2 separate regions of the Homo sapiens genome follow, and region 1 is linked to region 2. The links come from fine-mapping of genetic effects on gene expression. A gene starts in region 2. The other region holds a variant in brackets. All regions are shown on one strand. Distances are between the middles of the regions. Region 1 overlaps KIF13A (kinesin family member 13A). Region 2 holds the start of KIF13A (kinesin family member 13A).

Region 1 (2,915 bases), 150 kb after region 2:
TACACTGTCAAAGTAGAAATTATAAGTAGTTGCCACAAAGTAGAGGAAAGTCTTCTCTCGGTGATGGATAAATCCATGTCATCTCCAAAATGTATTTTCATGTGAAAGGTCACTGTCAACCATAAAGTTACTAATATTGACTTTTAAGTCACTGAACTCTTTAGAGCTTGTGTGAATTAAAATAATATGTGCCACACATAGATAGTAAAATATCTGGGATAGTTCAAAGAATTGTTTCCAATCAAAAATATCAATAGTTGCAAAATGTGAAAAAAATGCCCTGTATTCTATATTAAAGCAGAAATGTGTTTTTACCTTTTATTGAACTCCTACTTGCCTCTATTATCACATACAGTATTTTTTTCATAAAATTGTTACCTTTGGAGGAGTGATTGGACATATTTAATTTTTTTGAACAGCTGTATTAAGTAACTCACATACAATATAATTCACCATTGTAAAGTGTTCAATTCAGTAGCATTAATATATTCAGAGTTGTACCGCCATCACTACAGTCTCATTTTAAAACATTTTCATCATACCCAAAAGAAACCTTGTATCCAAATCATTCCCTATTACCCCCACCCACAGCCCTAGTCAACCACTGCCTCCATCTCTATAGATTTGCCTATTCTAGATATTTCATATAAATGGAATCATACAGTATATGGCTGTGTTCGATTGCTATTGCTACTGTAACAGATTACCACAAACTGAGTAGCTTAAAACAACAGAAATTTATTTCTCACAATTCTGCAGGCGAGAAATCTGAAATCAAGGGGTCAGCAGGGTTTGTTCCCTCTTAGCAGGTCAGAGGGAGAATCTGTTCCATGCCTCTCCCCTTGTTTCTGTAGGGCCATCAATCCTCGGCGTTCCCTGTCTTGTAGATGCATCACTCCAGTCTCTGCCTGCATCTTCACGTGGCCGTCTCCCCTGGGTGTCTTTATATGACCTTCTTATAAGGACATCACTCATTAGATTAGGGCCCTCCCTAATCCAGTATGATCTCATCTTAACTGATTACATCTGCAAGGACCCTTTTTCCAAATAGGGTCACATTCTGAGGGTCTGGCGGACATGAATACTGTTCAACCCAGGACAATGGCCTTTTGTGTTTGGCTTCTTTCACGTAAAATAATTTGCCAGGGTTCATCCGTGTTGTAGTTGTTGTGATACATGTATCTGAACTTATTCCCTTTTATGGCCAAATGATATTCCACTGTGTGTATATACCAGATTTTATTCATCACTTCATCATTTGATGGGCATGTGGTCGTTTCCACATTTTGACTTTTGTGGATAAAGCTGCTTTGAATATTCATGTACAAGTTTCTGTGTAGACTTATGTTTTCACTTCTCTTGGGTTAGATTTGTTTCACCTTTAAATCTGTCAAGTATGATGTACATTTTTGTGGATAAATGTATGGGGTACAAGTGCAATTTTGTTACAGGCACAGATTGTGCAGTGGTC[A/C]AGTCGGGGCTTTTAAGGTATCCGTCACCTGAATAACATACATTGTACTCATTAAGTATTAATTAAGCTTCTTGGCTGGGCGCAGTGGCTCACGCCTATAATCCCAGCACTTTGGGATGCCAGGATGGGTGGATCACCTGAGATCAGGAGTTCAAGACCAGCCTGGGCAACATTGTGAAACTCCATCTCTACTAAAAATACAAAAATCAGCCAGATGTGGTGGCGGGCGCCTGTAATCCCAGCTACTCAGGAGGCTGAGGCAGGAGAATCTCTTGAACCTGGGAGGTGGAGGTTGCATTGAGCCAAAATCATATCATGCCACTGAACTCCAGCCTGGGTGACAGAGCGAGATTCCATCTCAAAAAACAAACAAACAAAAAAATAAGCTCGTCATCCTCTCCCCTTCCACTCCCTCACCCTTCCAAGTCTCCATTGTCCATTCCAGTCTCTATGTCCATGAGTACACGTTATTTAGCTTCCACTTATGAGTAAGGACATGCAATATTTGTTTTTCTGTGTCTGACTTGTTTCTTTTATATATTTTTATTTTAATTTTTTTGACTTGTTTCACTTAAGATGATGTACATATTTATGCCACTCTGTGGTAATGGCTGTTATTAAAATTCTAACAGCCATTCTGATCAAATGAATTCTGGTTCATTTTCTGAATCTTGAGTTTATATTATATTTCGGGGACTTTTCAGTGACTCGTCTTTGGGGAATTATGTTTTGTGGGAAATAGGCTGCTTTCCTTTCAGCTTATTTGATGGAAATCTATTGTTAACATTACAAAGAAAGCTGTCTAGTCTTTCACTTGCTAGTTTGTGTCCTTCTTTGTTATTTGTAGTAGCATTTAACTTTTTTTTTTTTTTGAGATGGAGTCTTGCTCTGTCGCCCAGGCTGGAGTACAGTGGCGCGATCTTGGCTCACTGCAGCCTCCGCCTCCCGGGTTCAAGCAATTTTCCTGCCTCAGCCTCCCGAGTAGCTGGGACTATAGGCACACGCCGCCACGCCTGGCAATTTTTGTATTTTTAGTAGAGATGGGGTTTCACCATGTTGGCCAGGATGGTCTTGATCTCCTGACCCCTGACCTCATGATCCACCTGCCTCAGCCTCCCAAAGTGCTGGGATTACAGGTGTGAGCCACCACTCCCAGCTGCATTTAACTTTTTAAACCATTTACAAAGCACTTTCTTTTTATGATATTTTGGTTTTTTGGGGTTTCTTTGTTTTTGTTTTTTTGAAAGAGTCTCACTCTGTCGCCCAGGCTGCAGTGCAGTGGCACAGTCTCGGCTCACTGCAACCTCTAACTCCCGGGTTCCAGAGATTCTCCTGCTTCAGCCTCCCAAGTAGCTGGGATTACAGGCACCTGCCACCACGCCCAGCTAATTTTTTGTATTTTTAGTAGAGACAGAGTTTCACCATGTTGGCCAGGGTGGTCTCA
Region 2 (2,915 bases):
CTTTTTTTTTTTGAGACAGGGTCTTGCTTTGTTGCCTAGGCTGGAGTGCAGTGGTGCGAACATGGCTCACTGCAGCCTCAACCTTCCAGGCTCAAGTGATCCTCCCACCTCAGCCTCTCCAGTAACTAAGACTACAGGCACCTGCCACCATGCCCGGCTATTTTTTAAATTTTTATGTTTGGCAAGATGGGGTTTCTTTACATTGCCCAGGCTGGTCTCGAACTCCTGGCCTCAAGTGATCCTCCCGCCTCGGCCTCCCAAAGTGTTGGGATTACAGGCGTAAGGCACTGTGCCAGAGCACGAATACTGTATTTTCAATCAGATTTTGGTTGAAAAAAAGCCACGTGTAAGTGGACTCGTGCAGTTCAAACCCGTGTTGTTCGAGGGTCAAGCGTAGCATCACCTCGGTTGGAGGCGGACGGACCCCTCTCCTAGCACCTGCCGTACACTGTCTAGCATAATAAGTCTCCACGCCCTCTCTTCCACCTTAGCGTGTGCCTCTGCATCATGCTATTCATGTTTCTGTGTGTCCTCAACAGCACCCTGCACACAGTAAAACCTCAATGCATCTTCCAATAAGTGGATTTCTAGATTTAAGCAAAATCGAAAGATTCCTGGATCTAAACTCTGGATTTTTGACTTCTGTACGCTTCAAAATGCCTGGCACTCGGTGAGCGCCCCTTAAGCACTTGTTGAACCAAACAGAATAAATCGGATTCGCCCAGTTCCGCCCTGGCAGCGAGGTCTGCATTTGGCAGGATGACAGAATCCATTGCTATTAAATTCTTATGTAAGAGTTAATGGCCCTCCCAGCCCACTTGACATCCCTCCCGAGACAAGAGAGGCCGGGAAAGGAAGGGAGAGCACTATTTACAAACATACACTGTTTCGGTGGTGGATTCACAGATTCATTTCTAGTCTCGGTTCACCACAGAGATCTTAAAATACCGCTGCAGGCTCCGTGTGGGACAGAGGGGGCGGCGTGCCGGGACTCGGAGGGGAAGGCCTGCGCACCCAGCGCGGCGAGCCGTGGTCCTTGCTGCCGTCCCGGGGCTCCGGGTGGCAGCGGCCCCAGAAGGCGGCTCGAGCTCACGGCGGTGTCCGGGGGGGGGCCCCGCGGGCGCCGGTGCAGGCTTGGCCTGGGAGGTCCCCTGGGGAAACAATGCGTCCCGCCCCGGACTCCAGCCTCCCCTAAGCGCCGCGCTGCTCGCCGCTCCTCTCACTGCCGTCCCGCCGCTCCAGGGGGCGCCGCGCGTGGCCGTGTCCGGCCTCTCCCGAGCCCCGGCGGGTGACGGGCGCGGAACATGGCGGCGCGGGGCCCCGGGCAGCCGCGAGGGGCCGCGGCGCTGCGGTCTCGGCTGGGGCGGCGCGGCTAGAGCTGCGCCTGGGCCCGCCGGCGAGGCCTCCTCCCCGCCCGCCGCCGCCGCCGCCGCCGCCGCGCCCCGCCCCGCGCGCCCGCCCCTCCCCGGGCCGCGGCCGTGCCCCGCGTCGCGCTCCCCCGGGATGGCCCGCGCGCCTCGGCGCTGCCTCTCGGAGCTCACGGCGGAGCGGCGGCGGCCGCGCTCGAGGGGCGCGCGGCTGCAGCGGCGGCGGCGCCGCGCGTGAGGGGCCGCCTAAGGCCGAGCGGGCGCGGCGAGCGGCCGGGCGAGCGCAGCCAACATGTCGGATACCAAGGTAAAAGTTGCCGTCCGGGTCCGGCCCATGAACCGACGAGGTGAGGAGCTTTCCGCTCTTTTTTATTTCTGCTCGGGCTGAGGGCGGGGGCAACTTTAGAAACTGCGGGGCCGGGACGGCGAGAGCGCGGCCGGGGCCGGGGGGCCGGGGCGGAGGCGGCGTCCGCGCTGGCCGTGGTGCCCGGGGCGCCGTCTCCAGGCTCGGCCGCCTCCAGGGACGGAGCCCCGCTCGGCGCGGCTGGCGGGCGGGCGGGCTGGAGGCGCGGATGCTGGACTTTGCAACGTCCCTTTCTCTCTGCTTTCAGAACTGGAACTGAACACCAAGTGCGTGGTGGAGATGGAAGGGAATCAAACGGTCCTGCACCCTCCTCCTTCTAACACCAAACAGGGAGAAAGGTAAAGCGGGTTCCGAGAGGGCGGCTGGGAGGATCCAGCCTCGCGGGGTCCCGCAAGTTTGAGCCAGGAAAATGGGAGTGCTCTTTCCTATTGTTAGGAGGACGGCTTCAAGTTTGTCGCCGGCTCCTGTTTGAAGCTGTTGCAAGTCCAAGTTCCTCTCCTCCCTCGCCCCCCTTCTCCTCCATCTAGAGCGGCGGCAGGCAGGGCACCCTGGCCACAGCACCAGTCAGCTGAGCCCGGGCGGGCTGCGAGGCACCCGGGAGGGAGAGGGCCGGATGGGACCCCATAGGTGATTCGTCCAGCGGCCACATTTTACAGACAGGAAAACTGAGGCCCGAGGCGGGCAGGTGACCAGCCCACGACCTTATTGTTCGTGGAACCCAGTGTCCGTGATTCTTTTCATCACTGCAGGGTTTGTTTCCTTTGGCAGAATTGTTTAGGGACAGTGTGTCTAAAATGGGAGGAAAAAATAAAGCAAAAGTCTTGTACGATGTAGACTCAGGCTGGACTAGTTAGTATCTATTTTAGTTGTTGTTGCTGAGTTGAGATAATGCCTCAATGTAATGCGCGAATTTTGATTTTCAAAGAAACAAAAGTAGGGCCCTGAACTGTATAGACACTGAGGGATGTTTAAAAAGGGGCTGTATTTACTAGATGGCAACATATTTGCATTTGAAAAGTGGTAACTGTTGGATCCTTATTAATTCCGTTCTGTTCCATGCAACAGTATGGGTTAACGCCCCAAAATAATTTGAATATTTGGCATTTTTCTAGTAAGCCTCTGAGAAGAAATCGGTTGGAATTCATTCAATATAATAATGCAGTAGCTTGTAAATATATATATGT

The links. PIP is the estimated chance that this variant, and not a neighbour inherited with it, causes the effect. A credible set is the group of variants that fine-mapping cannot tell apart.
Region 1: its variant is the best candidate, but not a certain one, in a credible set for the expression of KIF13A in testis (GTEx, PIP 0.74).

The regions. Positions count from the first base shown.
Region 1 is chr6:17,837,749-17,840,663 of GRCh38, reverse strand. All of the region lies in intron 9 of KIF13A (kinesin family member 13A), which reads left to right. Among named protein-coding and RNA genes, the nearest start is that of NUP153-AS1, 130 kb to the right of the region's middle. The variant A/C (reference allele first, on the strand shown) is at 1,472.
Region 2 is chr6:17,986,208-17,989,122 of GRCh38, reverse strand. KIF13A (kinesin family member 13A) reads left to right here and starts at 1,488. Exons shown (of 39, transcript NM_022113.6): 1 at 1,488-1,714; 2 at 1,979-2,069. The coding sequence starts at 1,660. RefSeq lists silencers at 913-1,412, 1,783-1,902.